3 linked regions of the Homo sapiens genome follow. The protein of the gene in region 2 interacts with the protein of the main gene of each other region in a pairwise test. Each region holds a gene or a part of one and is shown on either strand. Other genes may lie near its edges.

The links.
Region 1: the proteins of TSPAN1 (region 2) and SLC19A2 interact in binary tests that used the Homo sapiens proteins (3 or more experiments, as listed by UniProt).
Region 3: the proteins of TSPAN1 (region 2) and TMEM80 interact in binary tests that used the Homo sapiens proteins (3 or more experiments, as listed by UniProt).

Annotation. Positions count from the first base shown.
Region 1 is NC_000001.11:169,482,844-169,489,753, forward strand, and holds the start of SLC19A2 (thiamine transporter 1), read right to left. Parts: upstream 3,102-6,910; 5' UTR 2,924-3,101; coding exon 2,720-2,923; intron 1-2,719. UniProt on the Homo sapiens protein: High-affinity transporter for the intake of thiamine. Mediates H(+)-dependent pyridoxine transport.
Region 2 is NC_000001.11:46,170,965-46,178,192, reverse strand, and holds the start of TSPAN1 (tetraspanin-1), read right to left. Parts: upstream 3,107-7,228; 5' UTR 2,784-3,106; intron 2,708-2,783; exon of another isoform or gene 2,608-2,707; coding exon of another isoform or gene 2,564-2,607; intron 2,465-2,563; exon of another isoform or gene 2,346-2,464; intron 1,966-2,345; coding exon of another isoform or gene 1,722-1,965; exon of another isoform or gene 1,705-1,721; intron 535-1,704; exon of another isoform or gene 372-534; intron 1-371. Other genes in the region: P3R3URF protein, read left to right, coding at 1,722-1,965, 2,564-2,607; P3R3URF-PIK3R3 (LOC110117498-PIK3R3 readthrough), read left to right, coding at 1,722-1,965. UniProt on the Homo sapiens protein: Structural component of specialized membrane microdomains known as tetraspanin-enriched microdomains (TERMs), which act as platforms for receptor clustering and signaling.
Region 3 is NC_000011.10:691,424-698,921, reverse strand, and holds the start of TMEM80 (transmembrane protein 80), read right to left. Parts: upstream 3,100-7,498; 5' UTR 3,095-3,099; coding exon 3,076-3,094; intron 54-3,075; coding exon 34-53; intron 1-33. Other genes in the region: DEAF1 (deformed epidermal autoregulatory factor 1 homolog), read left to right, coding at 3,875-4,163, 7,324-7,421.

The sequences.
Region 1 (6,910 bases), about 120 Mb from region 2:
TTGTAGTAGGATATAAGGCTGTCAAGGAGGTAAAAACCAAACTTCGTGAGGCTCTGAATATCAGGCAAAATAGGTGGAATGTTTAAAAAAATCTAAGAAAGGTAGTAAATGTCTGTCAAAACACATGCTACAATGATGAAAGGATAAAAAAGTTTTTAGAGATAAAGATCTGTTTTACTGAAAGTCTGGCCTTCAACTATTAACATACAGTCAAATTTTAGCCTGCTTAAAACTTACACACTGGTATCTGTTTTAAAATTAATGCTTTTCCTGAAATCTAAGAAAAAAACTTTTGAGAGTAGACAGAAGAAATCTTTTTCTCCTCTCCTTTTGTTTTAGGATTTAGTTAACAATAGCTCTATTCAAACCAACTTGGCCCTTCTGCAGTCTTCTAAGAGCAAATACAAACTTTAATACAAATGTCGCTGAATATGACTTAGCATTAGCTTTGCTTAAAAATCATGTAATTTTTTTTATTTAACTGTCCATGGCAAAAAACAAGCATTCAGTAAGTAATGAATAAGTTGTTCTATTTATTTCAATTATTAGTTATACAAAAAAACGTAGGGTTTGCCACAAGGTAAGCAGAGGAGAATCAGCCATGATTTGGTGGTCCTCTGAGAAGACACCCCTTCCCCAGACTACTAGATTTCTCTTCAAATCCCACGCTTTTCCTCAACTAATTTGCAATAAGAGAAGTACACTTATGTTTTTTGTTACACAATCAGCAAATAGTTACTACGCCTGGCAACTCTGCTTTATTTCTGTGCCCCCTGAACACACTTCACTCACCTTGAAAAGCTTTCTGATAGGACAGAGCACATGATCTTGGTAGCACGTCACACAGCAACCTTCTACCCAGAGCACATGACAAAACAGATCAGCTTTCAAATATCAACACTGGGAACATGTTTCTCTCCCTGTGTTTCACTATCCGGAAAGGCGCACAAACTGTGCAGATCACATGGCAGTTCACATGAAACTTTAATGGTCAGCTGTTCACAGCAGTATCAATTCTGCCTCAGTGGCTACACCTCAGATTCAGTGGTTGTTTTGGGTCTCCAGAATCATACTTTCTCATATCAGTGCAGTAATTTTCTTGTAAAATCATTCTGTCATGAAATTTGGCTGTTTTGACATTATTGCTTTAAATCAGTATTAAAACTCAAATAGGTTATGAATAACTGTTACGGTCGCTTATGTAATGATCCACAAGACTGAGAAACGGCCCAGCCACTCCATCCCACAACTGGCAGGTCAATAGGGTAATTTAAGGCCAGGCAAAAAGTCAGTGATACTTGCTAGAAGTGAACAAATGTCAGACTCTCAAGTGAAACCCTCAATACGTAAGTCAATACTGATTCTTAATTCTCTCTCAAGTGCCCTTGAAAATGACGGAGCATTGCAACAAACAAACTGCAAACAACAAACTATGAGTAACTATATCTCGCCAGTGTGCAAATGATTCCGGTAGTGCCATCTCTTGTTCTGACCTGTTATGCAGGGTTACTGAGTGGCTACTCAAAAGAAGTGACTGACTACTACCCACATAGAGAAGAGTAAGGTTTAAATGGGAGGAGTATTTTACAGCACCTGGGGCAAGGAGGCAGGGTGGAAGGAACAGGTGTAGGAAAAAAGAAAAAGCTCTCAAGTGGCCCCTTGACTGATAGTAGGAAAAAGAACATGAGACCTCAGCTTTCACCCTTTGTTGTATTCAAGGAAGAGGGTGTTGAATCGGCTTTATTTCGGTTTTGTGGAAGTACTTTGGGTTTAATTTCTTTCTCAGTTTATATATTGTCTTTCTTCTGCAAAAATCAAGTGCTGGTTTTGACCATGCACTTAAATAGGTCAGCACATTTCTAAAGTACACTATGCGCTTCTGAAGTACTTTATTTGTAAGCCCTCATCTAGGGAAAAAATCAATCAGCAAGAAACTCTTGATGATGGACTACGTGCTCTCAATTACCCTGAACATCACAGAAGGCCTTCAAAGACATCACCTTGTATCTGAGAAGCAAAACTAACATCTGTGAAGCAACAATTCGCAATACAAGAAACACTATAATTAAAAGTCAATTATGTTTCACCATCTGCCTTTATCCCTGGAGGTTGGTCTTAAGGTAGAGAGGGGCAGGATATCCTTGGACACAACCTCACCCAATTAAAAATCAAGACAAATTAAGATGTTCTGTACTTCTGTCCTGTCCTTACTTGATTAAGCCCACCCATTCTGCCAAATGCAAACAAAGTAAGGTATGGACAGGAAGCAGGTGAAGGAGGTAGAGGGAAGATCCTTTCAGAAAAGCAGTGGTTGCCTACTTTCAGTCAATGAATATTTACTAAGCCGTGTCCAAAGTACACTTTGCTGTTTTCACTTCTTTGTCAAAATATTGCCCCCTCGCCCCCAGCAGGAACTGCTGGACCAGTCTGGGCAGTCACGCTAAGCCACATTACAACACGATCAGCATACTGCCTGACGCACAAGGCACGGGGCCTCTGGACGCGTGTTCTGAGCCCTTCGCAGGAGACTCGTCCTACAGAGCCGAAGAAAACAGAAAATCATGAACACAAAGAAGAGCACGAAGCCGACCTCCAACTGGCAAAATCAGAAATCTCTGCCGAGAATGGCTCGAGCGCTTTTCTCGGTCCTCTCTTCCTCCGCTGCCCACCCGCAGGCCGGTCGCCCGCCCTTCCCGCGCCCCGCGTCCGCCGCGCGTACCTCCCTCTCGGTCAGGTTCTTGTCCGGCCCCAGCAGGTACGGGGTCAGGAAGGGCTCGGACGGCCTGAGGCTGGCGAAGAAGCCGTAGGCGCAGAGCAGCGCGGTCGGCAAGAACCAGCATTCGCGACGGACCCGAGCGGTCCGCAGGAGCACAGTGGCCGCCGCCGCCGCCGCCCGCCGAGACACCGGGCCGGGCACATCCATCCGGGGCGCGAGGGGAGGGGACCCGGCCCGGCCCCTTCCTTCTCCTCCTCCGCCAACTGGAGTGAGGGTCAGGCACTTGTAACCGCGAGTGACGCCTTCTCCCTGTAAGGCCAGGACGTTCTGGACTCGCCGCCGCCTCCGGCTACAGAACCCCCAGCTTTACCCTACAGACGCCTCTAGGGTCGCTGCCTGATCGCCCAGTTTAAGGGAGACCCGTCCTAAGGCCCACCCTCTGCCACCGCCTCCACTCCGGGAACCAATCACAGCGGACGCCGGGAATACTTGCCTGCTCTTCCATTGGTCGTGGGTCACACGACGTGAACTGGGGCGGTGGCAGCACGCCAGGCCTCTGACGTCCCAGGGCTCAAGCGCGGAGGACATGTGGAACTCCACTCCAAAAGCGGCGGCTTGCGGCGGAGCTCTCTCTAGTGAGGCGGCCAGCTGGCGTTCGTGGCACACTTGCTGTCGGCTCCGCTCATCTGTTGGGAATGCGTCCTGTGGGCCTAGTCCTCCGCTGGAAGAAACGCGCTGTTCTCCCCAACCACCGTTTATCATTCTTATTCACCGTCTCCGGAATGTCCATTCAGTTTCCGCTCCTGAGAGACTTAGTGACTGAGGCCAGGCAAAGATTTCACCTTGGGGAGGGGGAACGTTAAACCTTTCCTCCAGCAGCTTTCGTGTTTTAAATTGTATTCATCCGCCATGGAAAGACATCAGAAGCCCAGGATCTAAGAGACAGACTGAAATGAAGAAAGTAGATAATATTGTGAGAATAATGAACAAGCTGGTCACTGAACAGCAGAACCGTAATGGAGTCCCAGTTAAAGGGTTTTAACTTTATTTCGTCACTTTTTGCAAGCATGATACAAAGAAAACAAACACCTAACTACGCTACGGTTTATAGTTAAAAGGAAGGTGGAAGATCCTGAGTCATTACAGCAATCACAAAACATGATGGATTTCTTCATTTAAAAACACAAAAGAGGTCTTGGCATAGTTTTCAAGGGCAAAGCATGACAAGACTCTCCAGTGCTTTCTTTCATCCCCCTCTGTGTGCCTTTTTCTGCCTGACTCACAGCCTGGCTCAATCCTAATCTTTCTACTGCAAAGATGCAGCATTTAAAGCAATTTTTCCTGTGCAGTATTTGTAGAATGACAGATCCTGCCAGAAGCTCTTGGAAACATTTTGGAACTATCTTGCTTTTCTGTATGTTATGATCCATCTAGCACCGTTTTCCTCCTGTGGTAGCAAATGACACTTTTTTCAAGCATCAGCAGCAGAAATGAGTCTACCAGATGGAATAAGATACTGGTAAAGGGAAAGATTTGTTTCTAAGACTGCACAAATGAATGCACCCAAATCTGTGAGTTGATTAATCTGTGAAGAAATACAACTGGCAGTATTTACATATCTCAATGAGTCTCAAAGTGTGGTCGAGGAAGCCCTGGGGGTCCTTGGGACCCTTTCAGAGGTTCCACGAGCTCAAATCTATTTTCATAACCATGCTAAGTCTTTATTTCCTTTTCCACTCCAGAGGCTATATAATGTCTGATGACATCATCGCTTTATAGGATGAGAGAATACGTGCTTGTATATTCTTGTGTTTGTAAGACTTTCCAGGTTTAATTTATTACCATATGGCAATTTTCAATAAGTATAACCCACAAAACCCAACAGATTTTTGGGGCACCTCTAACAAGGGTCCTAAGACCAAAATGTTTGAGGACTGCTAATCGATATTATTCAATTGTCTAGTCCCCTAAACTCCAACCCTTCTTATCAGGACTACAGAGAGAAAACAGGTGGTCTTCTTGACAATCGCTTTGTATTTACATTCAGTGCTTTAGTAGAAGAGAAGAAAGAAAGAGAAAGCAAGCCAGAGAGGCCTCGGAAAGAGAAGCCTACTTATTAAAAATAGCTTTCTGGCTGGTCACGGTGGCTCACTCCTGTAATCCCAGCACTTTGGGAGGCCGAGACGGGCGGATCACTTGAGGTCAGGAGTCTCAGACCAGCCAGGCCAACATGGCGAAAACACGTCTCTACTAAAAATGCAAAAATTAGCCGGGCATAGTGGCATGCACGCCTGTAGTCCCAGCTACTTGGGAGGCAGAGGCAGGAGAGCCACTTGAACCCAGGAGGCGGAGGTTGCAGTGAGCGGAGAGCGAGACTCGCGAGTACTCGTCTCAAAAAACAAAACAACAATAACAAAAACAGCTTTCCATCCCTTCCCTGAGGCTTGGGTACCTGAACCACGTTAATCTGTAAATCACTGCTTCTGTAACTTTTCCTTGGTATAAATCACATAGGCAATGAGGTTGGGTATAAACAGTAATTGTCCTTGAATTGGGTAGATGTTTTCTTATTATTTTTGTCTAAGAGGTCATTGCGATAGGCAGAATTCTAAGAATGATCCCCAGTGACGCTTGCCCTTGTATAACCCCCACCCATTTGAGTGTGAGGTGAAACCTATGAATTTGATGAGGCAATACTCCTGTTATTATGTTACGTTTTATGACAGATGTGAGATTTTCCAGGTGGGCCCAATCTAATCACAACAGCCCTTTAAAAGCAGAGATTTTCCGTCTGCTAAGAGCAGAAGAGGAAGTCAGAGAGATTTGAAGGATGAGAAGAATTTGACGTGCTGCTGTTGGAGGGGGCTACATACCAAGAAATGTGGGCATCCTATAGCAACTGAAACTGGCTCCTGGCTGACAGCCAGCAGAGAATCAGGATATCAGTCCCAGAATCATAAGGAACTGAATTCTGCTAAAAACCTAAATGAGCTTGGAAGTGGGATTCTTCCGAGAAGAGCCCAGCCGGGTCACCATCTTAATTTTGGTCTGCGAAACCGTAAGCAGAGAATCCACTCAAGCCCACCTGGATCTACAGAACTGTGAGCTAAGCTGATGTGGTAATATTTTAAAGCCGCTAAATTTTTGTTCATTTGTTGTGCAGCAATAGGAATCTAACACAAAGGTAAATAGAATATATTTTTTAAATCGAGGCAATATTCACATAACATAAAATTAACCATTAATTAAGTGTACAACCCAGTGGCATTACTACATTCATAATATTGTGAAACCATCACTTCTGTCTAATTCCAAGACATTTTCACCACCCTACAGGAAACTGATACCCATTAAGCAGTCACTCCCTGTTCCCTCCTCCCCTTAGTCCCTGGCAAACACTAATATGCTTTCTGCCTATGGATTTGTCTATTCTGGAGGTTACATACAATTTGTGACCTTTTGTGTCTAGCTTCTTTCACTTAGTTTAATGTTTTAAAGATTCATCCACATTGTAGCATGTATCAGTACTTCGTTCCTTTTTATGGCTAAGTAATATGTGTATATACAACATTTTGTTTATCCATCAATTGATAACATTTGGATTATTTTTACTTTTGTCTATTGTGAATAGTGCTGCTATGAACATTTGTATGCAAGTGTGTATTTGAATATTTATTTTTATTTCTTTGGGGTATATACCTAGGAGTAGAATTGTTGTGTCATTTGGTAATTCTGTGTTTATCTAAGAAACTGCCAAACTGTTTTCCACAGGCTGCATGATTTCACATTCTCATAAGTAATGTACAAAGGTTCCAATTTGTCCACATCCTTGCCAACACTTATTTTCCTTTTTATAGTAGCCATCCTGGTGGGTGTGAAGTGGTATCTCATTGTGGTTTTGATGTACTTCTCTAATGACTGATGTTGAGCATCTTCTCATGTATTTGTTGGCCAATCATATAACTTCTTTGGAGAAATGCCTATTCAAGTCCTTTGCCCCTCTTTGATTCAGTTGTTTGTCTTTTTGTTGTTGAGTTAGAAGAGTTCTTTATAAATTCTAGGTACTAGACCTTTGTCAGATATGATTTGCAAATATATTTTCTTCCATTCAGTAGGGGTAAATAGAATATTGAGAGACTTTTTATATAGTAATATAAAAAAGCATGAAGGGATGTGTTTTGCAAAAAGTAAGAT
Region 2 (7,228 bases):
TAGAGACAGGGTTTCACCATGTTGACCAGGCTGCTCTCGAGCTCCTGACCTCAAGTCATCCACCCACCTCGGGCTCCCAAAGTGCTGGGATTACAGGCGTGAGCCACCGCACCTGGAACCTTTCTGTTTCATTCTCAGGAAGAATTGGGACCAGATTACATTCATCTATGGCCCTGGTGCTTGGCACATAAGAAGTTGTCAGTGAACATTTCCTGAGTGAATGAGTGCAGAATAATGAGAGTTAAGTGCTCTGGGTTTTGGATCTTGATCATCATGGATTTGCTTCCTGCCTGCCTCTAATTGTGTGACTTCACCTCACTGAGCCCCAGTTTCCTTATACAGTGGATCCTCCTTATTCACAGATTCCATACCTGTGAATTTGCCTGCTTACTGAAATTTATTTGTAATTCCCAAACCAGTACTTGTGGTACTTTTGCAGTCATTCATGGACATGAGCAGAAAGGCAAAAAATTTCAGCCGTCCAACACACGTATTTCCAGCTGAGGTCTGTTGAGCAAGAGGACTCTCTGTCTTCTTATTTCAGTTTTCATAGAGTAAACAAATGTGCTTTTTGGTGGTCTATTTAGTGACGCATATTCTCACATTTTTTGGTGTTTTTTGCTGGTGATTTTACTGTCTAAAATGGTCCCCAGTTGTAGTGCTGAAGTGCTCTCTAGTCTTTCTAAGTGCAAGAAGGCTGTGATGTGCCTTATAGGGGAAATATGTGCTTTAGATAAGTTTCATTCAGGCACAAGTTATAATGCTGTTGGCTGTGAGTTCAATGTCAATGACTCAAATATAGATAGATAGTTAGATAGATAGATAGATAGATAGATAGATATATTTTTTTTTTTTTTGAGACAGAGTTTCACTCTTGTTGCCCAGGCTGGAGTGCAATGGTGCAATCTGGGCTCACTGCAATCTCCACCTCCTGGGTTCAAGCTATTCTCCTGTCTCAGCCTCCTGAGTAGCTGGGACTACAGGCACCCACCACCACACCCAGCTAATTTTTGTATTTTTAGTAGAGATGGGGTTTTGCCATGTTAACCAGGCTAGTCTTGAACTCCTGACCTCAGGTGATCTGCCCACCTCGGCCTCCCAAAGTGCTGGGATTACAGGCTTGAGCCACCATGCCTGGCCAACAATATATATTAAATAAGGTGTCTCCACACATAAAATCAGGTTATATGTATAGATCAGTTGACAAAAATATTGTGACCAGAGGGTTTCAGGAACCTAACCTTGCATTTACCCTTTGTTCAGTATTTAGTGTTTGTGGCGACTTTATAGAACATTACTGGGAATAATGAGAATTGACTGTATATAAATAGGTATAATGATGGCATATCCTTGTAAAGTAGCTGAGATTAAATGAGATAACGTTGGTAAAGTGCTCAGCACAGTGTCTGGCACGTAGTAAGTGCTCAAAAAACATTGTTAATATTGTTACTATATGGATAAGTGAGAAAGTGAGGAAGTGAGTTCCGCCTCTAGGGCCTCTTTTCCCAAGGGGCCAAACTGAGGCTGTCTGGCTCTTGGGCTGGCTTTTAGGCCAGACCCAATAAAGAAGATTGTGAAGGAGCCTGACCCATGAGGAGGGGCCAGGGCCCACGACTTGTAATAAAGGGCCCTGCCCTTATGCAGACTTTGTATGTCATAGAGGCCTCAGCTACCCTGGCCAACAGCACCCCCCAGGCACACTGCAGAAGCTCCCTGTGCCCATGGGGCCATCTCGGCTTGTCCGTGGCCCTCGGCCCCAGGGCATGCGTTCCCCCTACCGCAGGCCAGGTATGGGCTGGCCCAGGCCCCGATTTCCCAGGATGTTCAAGTGTAGCCGCAGAAGATATCAACAGGGTCTCCGAGGTCGAACTGCCAGCAGTGCAGCCATCAATCCTGCCACCAGGGCCATGGGTATCAACAACACCCACACTGACACCACCATAGTGTGGATCTTCCCACCTCAAGGTTAGCCAGGGGGCCTGTGAGCCAGGGTGGGGTTTTAAAAAACAGAGCCACTAGGCTGGGTGCGGTGGCTCATGCCTGTAATCCCGGCACTTTGGGAGGCCAAGGCGGGCAGATCACAAGGTCAGGAGATCGAGACCATCCTGGCTAACACGGTGAAATCCCATCTCTACTAAAAATACAAAAAAAAATTAGCCGGGCGTGGTGGCACACGCCTTTAGTCCCAGCTACTTGGGAGGCTGAGGCAGGAGAATTGCTTGAACCCGGGAGGCAGAGGTTGCAGTGAGCCAAGATCGCGCCACTGCACTCCAGCCTGGGTGACAGAGCTAGACTCTGTCTCAAGAAAAAAAAAAAAAAACCAGAGCCAGTGAAGATTTCCCTACCTGGTTCTGTTTAGGCACGCCAAAGGATGATCTCTGTGAAATAGCACCCCTACATATATGGGGGACTCCTGATGGCAGGCACCCCAAAGTGCTGACAGCCTTAATGGAGGATGGATTGGCTGGAAGCAGAGGGTTTGGGGAGGGGCTGAATCCAAGAGGCAGGGAACTTCCAGAACTGCTTCCTTCCTCAAACTCTTCCCTCTCCTTCCTCTCCTCAGTTCTCAGACATCTCAGGCAACCTGGGATTTTTCTGATCCTCTAGAAGTGCCCAGAAGCTAGCCCAGAAGCTTGGTTTGCCCTGGACCTGCATCTCCTAGGGGCCGTGTGGGTGGTGAACAACAAATACAGTCATTCTGCTCAAACTGCCTTATTCCACACAGAGGTGTTAACCAGCTGACTATGCAGGGCGTGAGGGGAGGGTTATGGCTGAATACTTACAGGGAAAGGCTTCAGTGACCGCAGCAGGGATCATAGTTTAAGACAGCAGGAGGACAGGACAAGGTCAGCAACATAGACCATCTTTGGTCTCAGCTCTTGATCTGCCCCATGAAGTAGGGGCTCTCTTGCCTTACACTCCTAACTGCACAGGGAGAAGGGTCTCTGTAAACATCTTGGAAGGTATTGGGAGGCACAGATCAGAGAGGGATAGGATGAAAGACTGAACCCTGAGAGTACACAAGTATGAGGTGGATGTGAGGTGGATGTGCCTCTGTGTGCCTGTGATGGTCAGCGTGTAGGTGTAGCTGCTGGTGTGTGTGTCTGAGGCCGGGAGAATAGGAGTATCAGTAGATGTGGCTGAATGTGCCTTTGTGATTTAATGTGCCTCTGTGACTGACTGTGAGTGTCAAGGAGCGTTTGTGAGGGTATGGGTGTGCCGGAGAGGACATCAGCCCTGGTAAGAAAAGTGAAGGTCAGGAGGGGGATGGGGAACAGCCTAAAGGAGGAGAACATGGAGAAGGGTGAGATTCTGAGAAAGGCATACTACCTTCGGCCCTTCAACCATTCTCTGAGGTCAGTGTTTTCCAGAACTGGCAGCTGAGCTGGGGTGCTTAGGGGTGGGGCAAGACTGAGTTTGAGCCCAGAAAGTAGGGAGGGTGCTAAGCTCTCTGGCCTGGGGATTTTCCATTTGGATTTCTGAGTGTGTGCTCATGTGTCACTGGCTGTAACCGGGTTTCTGTGGGGTTGTGTCTTAGTCGCTGGGAACATTTTGTAGGACTCTGTCTCGAATATGTTGCATCATGCATGGGCTAATACGTGTTGCACCGGTCCGAGATCTGGCTGCATTTCCAGGCTACCTTCCCAAGGGGCTAGGGAAGGGAGTGAACCCTGAGACCTTTGGTGGCCTGGCCCCCTGGGGTTCAGGAAGTGTGGCTAATGTCCTTTGCTGCCTGTGAAGGGAAAGTGAATTGTGCTTATGTCTATCTACCCCAACTCTTGCCAGAGACTGGGACCCTGAGGGGGGTTGAGGCAGAGAATTCACTGACACACCATGCCCAGACGGTGCTGGGCTCCTCAGGTTATGGGATGGGGGTTGCTGAACATCAGTCAAAGCTAGAAGGTGCTTGGGCCATGCTCAAGGGCCCAAGAGGGGCCATACATATAAAGATACATGACACAGTTCACAAACACATGCAGACATGTAAATATAAGTGAACTCATAGACACATACTGCAACAACCACACACATGCATGCAAGCACATACTATAAGCAGATATACGCAGACACAAATGCATAGATCCCCACACGATATATGTAACAACACATACGCATGCCTCTAAATGAACACAGACAGAAACATGCATGCACCCAGACACAAGCACACAAGCACCCAGATGCAGACACATGCCTTCACACTCATGCAAACCCAGGCACACACAGACATACACGCATGCAGACACACTCACCAGACTTCCCTGCCCCTGCGGCCCTGGGACCCAGAAGCCTCCCTCCCCTATATGAGTGTGTAGTATGTGTGTGTGCATGCACTCATGCCCACACTTGTGTCTGTGTGTATCTGTGTCTGTGAGAGTGTGTGTTTGTGCTCGAGTGTGTGTATGATGGGGGTGCTAAGCTGTGGGAACCAGATGACATCATCTCTTCCAGCTATTTTTAGCTGTATCTGCGATGATGGCTTCTTCACTGCCCCTCCCCCTTCAGGTTCCTAATTCTCCTCCCCATCTAGGCTCCCAGAGGCAGCAGCAGCCAGAGGGCACCCACCACCTCAGTTTAGGTGGCTCCCGGATGAGCGGGTGCAGCCCACTCTCTCCCACCCTGCCAGAGTTCCCTGGTGGCTGAGAACACCAGGCTCTCAGGCTGGAAGGGCCTGGGTTAGCTGAGCTGACCTAGATGGTCTCCACCCCTTAAGGTGCCTCTGCTTCTGCTTTTCAATCTGCAACTCTGTGTCAGTCAACAGTGCCTGCTATGTGCCAGGGATGGTACTAAATTCTGGAGATACAGCAGTGAGCAAGGCAGTGGGAGTTCTTTCCCAGAGGAATTATAGCTCAGTGAGAGGCACATTACACAGATTACACAAGCTCTTCATTAAATCGTGAGGAGGTCTCTGAGTACTTGTAACAGGGGCTCCGTTTGCGATGATGTTCTCTGCCTCTCTCTGTTCTTCCTTCTCCCATAGGTGAGATAACCTGAGGAAATCAGAGGGAATACAGCCCTTACCTTGCACCCTTCATCCTAACAACCATATCTCCAGAATTCCACAGAGCAGTGCTTCCTTCTCACACCCTAGGCTGTGCTCCCAACATGGCACTAACACACCATCCAACTAATTGGTGGCCCATGATACTCATATCTCCTTTTTCTTTGTTTGTTTGTTTCTTTTTTCTTTTCTTTTTTTTTTGAGACAGCGCCTGGCTCTGTTGCCCAGGATAGAGTGCAGTGGCGCAATCTTGTCTCACTGCAACCGTCTTCTCCCAGAGTCAAGTGATTCTCGTGCCTCAGCCTCCCTAGTAGCTGGGACTACAGGCATGTGCCACCATGCCTGGCTAATTTTTGTATTTTTAGTAGAGATGGGGTTTTGCCATGTGGGCTAGGCTGGTCTTGAACTCCTGGCCTAAAGTGATCCATCTACCTCAGTCTTCCAAAGTGCAGGGATTACAGGCATGAGCCACCTGGCTCAGCCCTTTCCCCTGCCTAGTTTTTAGGGACAGGGTCTCTCTCTGTCACTCATACTGGAGTGCAGTGACCTGACCTTAGCTCACTGCAGCCTCAGTCTCCTGGGCACAATCTATCCTCCCACCTCAGTCCCACAAGTAGCTGGTACTACAGGTGCAGGCCACCACGCCTAGATAATTAAAACATTTTTTTTGTAGAAACAGGTTCTCCCAGCTACTCAGGAGGCTGAGGCACGAGAATTACTTAAACCTGGGAAGTGGAGGTTGCAGCCAAGATCATGCCACTGCACTCCAGTTCTTGGGCTCAAGTGATCCTCCCGCCTCAGCCTCCCAAAATGTTGGGATTACAGACGTGAGCTACTGCTTGCCCCCTACCACCTCACTTTTCTTTGAAATCTTCCTGTAGTCAATCCCTGGGAGGCAGGCCACTATTCCTCATCTATAGATGAGAAAACCGAGGCTCAGAAATGGACAGCTCTGGACCACACCTCACAGTGCCTGGGGAGCAGCCCAGGGGAGATGGCAGGCAGGTGGAGAAGGAAGTGGTGGCACACTGGGACAGTTGGCACAGGTGCAGGAGGAGCAGGCCAGGCCAAGCCACCGAATCGGGAGGTGAGGGGGAGGAGGATGATGGCCTGAGGGTTCATGCCAGGAGGAGGGCTTCCCGCTCCAGCCAGCCTCAGGCAGCCACTGGAAAATCGGGTTTGGCAGCTTCAGCCATGTGCTGCAGGACTGGAAGAAGGTCCAGGCTGCTCCTGGGAGGCAGCCTAGCACGGGCTCTTCCTCTAGCCCTGAGTTTCACCACCTGGCTAGTTGGGGGAGTATTACTTTATAATTCTGGGACCCTTTGGACCGTGAAGAGAACAGCTCTGGGCTAGAGGCAGGAGCCCGGAGCTTCAGTCTTGGTTCTGCCCCAAGCCCTGATCTGATCCTTGGAGTGTCCTGGCCCCTCTCTTCGCCTCTGTGGCTCCGCTCTAGAGAAATAGGTTCCCCAGACCCCAACTCCTGCCCCCGAGATTTTCCTGGGAGTCTGACTCAGGCACAGGAACACAGAGTCAGTGGGTAAGGGCACGAACAGACAGCCCCTGGGGCGCCAGGCTGGAGGTCGCTTGTCACTAATAGGTCAATGGCCGGAAGCCCAGCTCCAACCCCACAATGCAATACCGGTCACCCCACCCTTACCAGTGCCCTCACCCACACCCCCACTTCCGGCCTCTGTTCCTTCCTCACCTCTGGGGAAGGCTGCAGGGCTCCCTAGGGAATGTCCCCTGGTTCCTCCACTGGCTCTCTGCCCAGTGCTTAACCCTTCTTCCCACACCTACCCATTCAGCCAGGGCAGTCTCCCACAAAACTTTCTCTCCCTGGACCATGGGGCAGTGCAAGGAGGACAGGAAGCTGGGTGGAAGGACTGCAAAGGAGACTGCTTTTCCTGCTACCCTCAGGTACTGAAGCCCAAGTAAGAGTTTTCAGTAGAGAGGGAGTAGACTGAGTGTTGGGCCCTAGGACTGGGCTTCCCTGGGTACTATCCCAACCCCTGAGCCTCGGGAGAGGTGGAAATGACCTTCCTCTGCACCGGCATGCCCAGAGAAGAGAGCCTGGAGCTGAGACTTGCAACTTCTAGAAAACAAACACAAAACTGAGGCCAAGAGAGTGCTGACTACTATTACCAACAAAATTCATTAAACACAATTTTAAAAAATCATGAAATTCTAGATTCATGGAGTTCACAGTTATGGAATCTTAGCATCACAGAA
Region 3 (7,498 bases), on a different chromosome or scaffold from region 2:
GGTGCTGTCCTGGAGGGGCACGCAGCAGGATACCACTGTGGAGGATCCTCTCCCTGAAAGAGAAAGGGGCCGTGAGCAAGGCCTGACAGCCACCAGGATGCTTTCCCGGGTCTCGCTCCACACTGACAGGAACCACCCCTGCTTTATTTTCCTTTGATCTCGTATTTGTAGAAAGCAGCAAACATATACCGTGGGCCTGCCACTAGATAGCTCCCGTGCCTCTCTAACCATCCTTCAATGAGGCTAGGAGTCTCTGCCTTTCAGAACCTGAGGCTGGAGACAGCGAGTACCGGGGGCACCGGGGTGGGAAGTGAACCTGGGCCAGACCCAGCTGGCCCTCAGGGAAAGCAGCACCCTGGAGCCCACCCCAACAGCTGCTCTCATTGTCTGTGGCTCACCGTCTGTGGCTTCTCCGTATTTGCCACACATATATGACTAGATGAAAACCTTTTCTGACTTAGGTTGTAACAAATCTTTTTTCATGATTGATGAGACATTTGCTTTCCTCTGAAATTTTATCCCCAAATATCCCTCCAAAAATAAGGATTTTCCAAACCAGCAATGCAGCTGTCCAGTCTTTTTATCATGCAACCTCTTGGGCCTTCTCCCACCCCCACCTGAGAGATGACAGGAAGCCCGAGGAGTGAGTGGAGTCTCTTTCCTCCTTTTTGATTCTGAGGTTTTGCATCTGAAGACGCCTCTGACTCACCCTGGATCCACGCTGACCTGGAGCGGACTAATTGTCTGAAAAGGGCTCAGGCCAGTTGCACGTGTGATATGTGCACGTCCCTCCATGTGTAGATACCTCAATACACATCTAGAATTGGGTGGAAACCTCTCATAAAAGGAGGCTCAAGCTGCACCGCTGGGCGGCAGGCAGGACAGCAACCTGAACACAGCCTCTGTTCTATTTCCCCTTCAGCGCCAGGGAGGGCAGGACAGAAACCTGGCGTTGGTGAGATTTTGTGGCTGATCCCACAGCTTCTTGGGCAGATCTGGGGCCTTCTGTGCCAGAGTTTGTGGAATCTCACACAGGCAAGAGTTTTAAGCCAGTAAATACAGGACATCGGCATCAGAGACTCAGAACTGGGCTCCTGGAAGAGGCACCACAGGATGGAAGCAGGAAGCCAAGTGCACGGCAGACCACGCCGCATCGCGTTCCCGGCAGGCCACTCTTTAAACCCGATCTGTTCTTTTCCAGGCCTTAGCTAAACCAGGCCACCTAAATACCTGTCATTATCTGTGATGATTTCGCATTAATTGGGGTTTTTGTCCCTTCTGTTCCTTTTCTTAAAGGCTGGCTTCTTAAACACTTCCAATGTGTCTGCTAGTTGCTCACTGTTATAGATTGAAGTTATGGGGCTTGGGGGAAAAACTGTATAAAAGCCTTAAGTGATGTAACATTTTAATAATTAATATGAAGGGCGGCTATAACCAGATACGCTGTTCTAACAATTCCAGACCTGCAGGAGCTCATTCTGACCGAACGTAGCCTTGGCTTTCAGGACAACATTTTTTGTCAGTGACTTACTATAATCACAATGTGGCTACGAATAGCTGTGTCAGGCAGAAGTTAAACATGGAAGTGAAAGAGAACAAGTGTTTTCCCTGATGTAATGGACAAGATGTGTTAAGAAATCTTGTTTTGGTATACACTTAGTTTTTTTAGAGACAGGGTTTTGCTCTGTTGCCCAGGCTGGAGTGCAGTGGCCTGATCACAGCTCACTGCAGTCTCAACCTCCTGGGCTCCAGTGATCCGCCAGCCTCAGCCTCCCACGTAGCTGGGACCACAGGCTCCCTGAGGTAATTTTTTTTTTTTTTGAGACAGAATTTCGCTCTTGTTGCCCAGGCTGCAGTGCAATGGTGCGATCTTGGCCAACTGCAACCTCCGCACCCCACCCCCCCCACCACCACCACCGGGTTCGAGCAATTCTCCTGCCTCAGACTCTCAAGTAGCTGGGATTACAGGCATGCACCATCACGCCAGGCTAATTTTGTATTTTTAGTAGAGACGGGGTTTCTCCATGTTGGTCAGGCTGGTCTTGAACCCTCGACCTCAGGTGATCCGCCCGCTTTGGCCTCCCAAAGTGCTGGGATTACAGGCGTGAGCTACTGCGCCTGGCCTTCCCCGGGGTAATTTTTAATTTTTTTTTTGTAGAAGGGGGTCTCGCTCTGTCGCCCAGGCTGGAGTGCAGTGGCGCCATCACGGCTCACTGCAACCTCGACCTCCTGGGCTCAAGTGATCCGCCAGCCTCAGCCTCCAGAATAGCTTGGCCCACAGGGGTGCGCCACCGCCTGGCTGATGTTTACAGTTTTTTTTTTATAGAGGGGGTCTTGCTATGTTGCCCAGGCTGGCCTCAAATGATCCTGCAGCCTCGGCTTCCCAAACTGTCAGGCTTACAGGCCTGAGCCACTGCGCCCAACCTAAACTTAATTTTTAACCAAATGAAAATACACAAAACAAACCTGGTTACTAGAGGCTGTCCTGCCTATGGAGTAGCCATTCTTTATTCCTTCAAAACAATGCACCTAATTACTAGAGAACACGCACGAAGGTTTGGCACTTCAGCGCCCGCGTATGGGAGTTCTGGCTGTACCCACAGACAGCAGAAGGCGGCTCCTCTGCAGGATGGCCGATTTACTGCTTTGGTCTGTCCCTTCCTCCTCTCGGAGGCGAGTCTCTCAGGCAGGACGGCTGAGGCACCGGCGCCCGCGATTTTCTTTGGCGAGAGTTCCAAGGCTACCGAAACCCTGCGCCCATCCCGCCCACGTGTCTTCACAAAAACCACGCGCGGGACAAGAGCTGCCGGGGACTGGGGCCCCCAGAGCCGCTCCGCACCCACCCTGCCCGGGGCCAGGCGCCCGCGCGCGGGGGAGCTCTTCGGGGTGCAGGACGCCCGCCACCCAGGCCAGGCCAGGCCGCGCTTCTCGATGGGGTGACGGAGCTGTCTCGCTCACGTAGAGACGGTGGCACGGCCCCGTGAGCGCACCGAAAGCGGAAACCGGATTGTCACCACAGGGAAACGCCGCGCCCGCCGCTGCAAGCCCGGAAGCCCCCACCCCGCCCGAGCTCACCTCGCCGCGGGGCCGCCATCTTACCCGCCCCGCCCGCCGGTCCGTCGCGATCCCGGCAGCCTCTCGGCCCGCGCGCTCGCGCTCCTTCGGCCATTTTCGCGTCTCCTGACGAAGGGGCCCGACCGCGCCGCGTTTCGGGAGCGGACGTCCGAGCCACGGCCGAGGCCCGATTAGTCCGTCCGGCACCGCTCGGGCACTTTCGGAAGGGAAGAGGTGGAGAACCGACGTTCGGGAGCATTCGGCCTCGGGGACATTCGGCTCGTCTCGGCTCGGCCTCGGGCTGACTCGGCTTCCGCCGGCGGCGGGAACGGGCGAAACCCGCGGCACTAAGCTCTCTCTGAGAGGCAGAATTGCGCCGGCCGCCGGCGAGAATCTGCCTAGAGCCGTCCAGCCCTGTCGGCCGGGGACGACAGCCGCCTCAGCCTGTCAGGACAGTGAGGAGAGCAGGGGCCGAGTCTCTCGGAAGCCCTCGTGAGGACTCGGACCTATTCGGACTGATTCGGCTTCCCACTTCGGGGAACTTCGACCCTCCTCGGTTCAGGACTCGGTCTCGGCTCGGCGGCTTCGTGCAGGTTCGGCTCCTACTCGGGCAGCCTCTGTTCGCCTCGGCTCCGCTCCGCGGGCGGACTCGGCTCGGCTCTGCTCGGCGGCTGGCTGCCTTTTCGGTCCCTATTCGGGCGGCGGCTTCGGGCGGCCTCGGCCCAGCTCGGGCGTCCTCTTCGGGCCCCGCTTCGGGCTCCGCGACCGGCGCTTCGGGCGGTCCCGGACGGCGCCTTCGGGAAGGCTCGGCGGAGTCCGGATGGAGGACTCGGACTCGGCGGCAAAGCAGCTGGGCCTGGCTGAGGCGGCGGCGGTGGCGGCCGCGGCCGCTGTGGCGGCGGCGGCCGCGGCCGCGGCAGGAGGCGAGGCGGAGGAGCCGGTGCTGAGCAGGGACGAGGACTCGGAGGAGGACGCAGACTCGGAGGCGGAGCGGGAGACGCCGCGGGTCACGGCAGTGGCGGTGATGGCGGCGGAGCCCGGGCACATGGACATGGGCGCCGAGGCCCTGCCCGGCCCCGACGAGGCCGCCGCTGCCGCAGCCTTCGCAGGCAAGTGCGCCCGCCGGCCTCTCGCCTCGTCCGGTTCCCGCGCGCCTACCCCGCGCGCCTGCCCCGCACAACTGTCCCAGGTGACCAGCCCGCCACACCTGTCCCTCACACCTGCTCCACGTGACCAGCCCGCTCCACCCGCCCTGCACACCTGCCCCTCACACCTGCTCCACGTGACCCGCCCGCCCCACCCGCCCTGCACACCTGCCCCACGTGACTAGCTCACCCCTCACATCTGCCTCTCACACCTGCCCCACCCGCCCCTCACACTTTCCCCACGTACCTGCTCCAGGTGACCAGCCTGCCCCACCTGCCACAAATACCTGCCTCGCACACCTGCTCGACGTTTCCAGCCTTCCCCACCTGCCCCACGTGATCGGCCTGCCCTACCTGCCCCGCACACCTGCCCCACATACCTGCCCCAGGTGACCAGCCTGCCCCACCTACCCCAAACACCTGCCCCGCACACCTGCCCCTGGTGACCTGCCTAGCCTCACCTGACCTGGCCCTGCCCTGCACACACCTGCCCCCTGCCCCCCTTTTCTTTGTGGCAGCCCCGCCTCCTACTGGTCCCCCCTGTGCAGCTCTGCCCCTGCCCTGCCTTCGTCCATCCTGGCTCCCCCCACCTGTCCTGGAGAAGCCCTGGGGTGGGTGGGCACCTGTGGTCACCAGGAACCCCCCACTTCCTGAGGGCCAGTTCAGGCATGACCTGAGCGCTGGGGAGCCAGGGGTGGGCAGCCTGCTGGAGGCCATGATGCCAGAGGTCAGCGTGGCTGTGTGGTGGCCCAGGGGGGCTGCGGAGCCACCTGTGCAGGCTCCCCTCCCAGTCCTCCCTCTTCCTCTTGCCTTTTTCCCTAAGGACCTGCTCCTCCTGCCCCGCTTCCTGTCGGGCTTCCTTTGGGGAGGCTGCTGTGGCTTTCCAGTCCACATTTTTATATAAGCTGCTTATAGTTTCTTGCCACACAGGTCAGTCTCCTTCTCAGGCTCCAAAACACTGGGAGCCCGTGGCAGAGCTCACAGATGCCCTACGGGGCTGGTGCCGTCCACCCACCTCCTGTGTCCCGCCCTTGTGTCCGTGGGGCATAGACTTCCCCACCCACTGGCTTCCTAACGCACTGTATTCTTCCCCATTGGAGTTCCCGAGTGTCCCCCAGGGACTCACAGCTCAGTGTTGAGACCCTTGGGAGGAGCTTCTTGTTGCGTTGTGAGGCACTTTTCCCCTACGGAGCTTTGCGGGTTGAGGAACTGGATCCCAGTCCTGGTGTGCTGGGTATGTCAGGGCATTGCGTGTGCTCTGGGTGCTTGTTCGGCCTGGGGGCTGGGTGGGGGCCAGCAGCGTCTGGGCTGCCCTTGGTCAGCTGAGTGGCCCTCGAAGGCAAAGGGGTCACTGCTGCTTGTTTGGTTGGTTAAGAAAAAAAAGTGAGGGAAGGCTTTGTGACTCTCAGGGGTTGGCGTCCGTCGCTAAACTCTGGTTTGACGTTGGGATTTGGAGCCATGAGGTTGATTTCAGGTTTTTGTCATTTTTGCACGTATTTTTCTGAATGCATAAAAGAAAAATGATGCTGTTCATCATGATGTCAGAGAAATGTGCTGACGTGTGTTTTCTTCTGAAAAATATGGTAGTTGTGTTTTGATGTGGTAAAAGCACTTTAATACTTTTTAAAAATTACGAACAGCTGACGTCAAGTGGTTTCCAGGTTTAAGTAACTCAGCAGGACACGCTGCCGCCTGAGGAGGCTTTGGGCGGCTGCTCCCAGGGCTGCCATGGGCCTGGCGTTGAGCACTCACTGTGGCCGCGCGCCGCATGCCGGGGCTTGTGGTGCTGAGAGGCGAGGATGAGGGAACCGTGCACCTGGTGTGGTCTGGTCGTGGAGACAGACAGCAAACATGCCTTTTTTTTTTTTTGAGACGGAGTTTCGCTCTTGTTGCCCAGGCTGGAGTGCAATGGTGTGATCTCAGCTCACCGCAACCTCCCGCCTCCCGGGTTCAAGTGATTCTCCTGCCTCAGCCTCCCGAGTAGCTGGGATTACAGGCATGTGCCACCACGCCCGGCTAATTTTGTATTTTTAGTAGAGATGGGGTTTCTCTATGTTGGTCAGGCTGGTCTCGAACTCCTGACCTCAGGTGATCCGCCCGCCTTGGCATCCCACAGTGCTGGGATTACAGGCGTGAGCCACCGCGCCCGGCTGCAAACAGGCATTTTTAGGGCAGTTTGGTGAGTGCTGGGTTAATGGTATGGTCAGGACTCATTCAACCAGTATCTTTTAAGCATCTGCTGTGTGCCAGAGATTGCCCTGGACACAGGACATTCTAGAACTCTGGGTGACAGAAGAGCCACTTGCTTGGCCTAGGAGCATCACAGGAAGACTTTGCAGAGGCAGAGAGGAGGGTGTGGGGGTGTTGGCGGCAGAAAGTGTTTCTCTAGAAACACTCCAGCATGTAGAGGCTGGAGCTGCAGGACCTATCTGGGATGACAGGGGCAGGAGGTGGGGTGCAGCTGACCTCTGTGGTAACTGCCCTGTGTGCAGATGCTGCTGAAGGGCCTGTCTGCATGCCAGGGGGCTGAGTTCCATGTTGTAGGGGGTGCGGTGGGGTGGCACCAAGGGACATAGGCAGGTTAGATGTACTTTTTAGGAGGAAGGGGTCAGAGACCAAGGGCAATGGCTGTGAGCATGGGGCCGAGGTCACCTGACGATGGTGGCCTGACCCCTGCGGTGGAGGAGAGGCAGGAATGGAGCTACAAGAGTGGGTCCAGGAGGTGTCCTCACCTGCGGGGAGGCCGAGAGCTCCTCGTAGGCATAGGGCACACCTGACCAGCAGAACCCACAGCTGTGCCGCAGAAGGAGATAGAAGCCCCGTGGTGGTTTGATAGAGCTGGGGCTGGCTGGGGTGGCGGGTTTGTTGTATGCATTTTTTACTGCACGTAAAAGGCTTTACTGGGGAAGAATAGATTTCCTCTCTTTTTCCTGGAAGAGCCGAATGACTTAGACAATGGAATAGAAATGTAGGTCGAGCGTGTTCATGGAAGTGTTAAGATCTTCCTGGTTACAAGGGCACACACCTGAGGGGGAGTCACTTTGTTTGAAGCACCTGAGCGAGGCTGTTCGCTTTGTCCATTCTGGCTTTTGTTGCTTGTTAAATGAGGCTCCTTCTGTTGCAGAGGTGACCACAGTGACAGTGGCCAACGTGGGGGCTGCTGCAGACAATGTCTTCACCACGTCTGTGGCGAACGCGGCATCCATCTCAGGACATGTTCTGGTAAGCTGCTCCGAGGGGCACAGCCCAGGGCGGGTGGTGCCACGCTGGGGGCCTCCGGCTTCCCCGAGGCTCTCCCG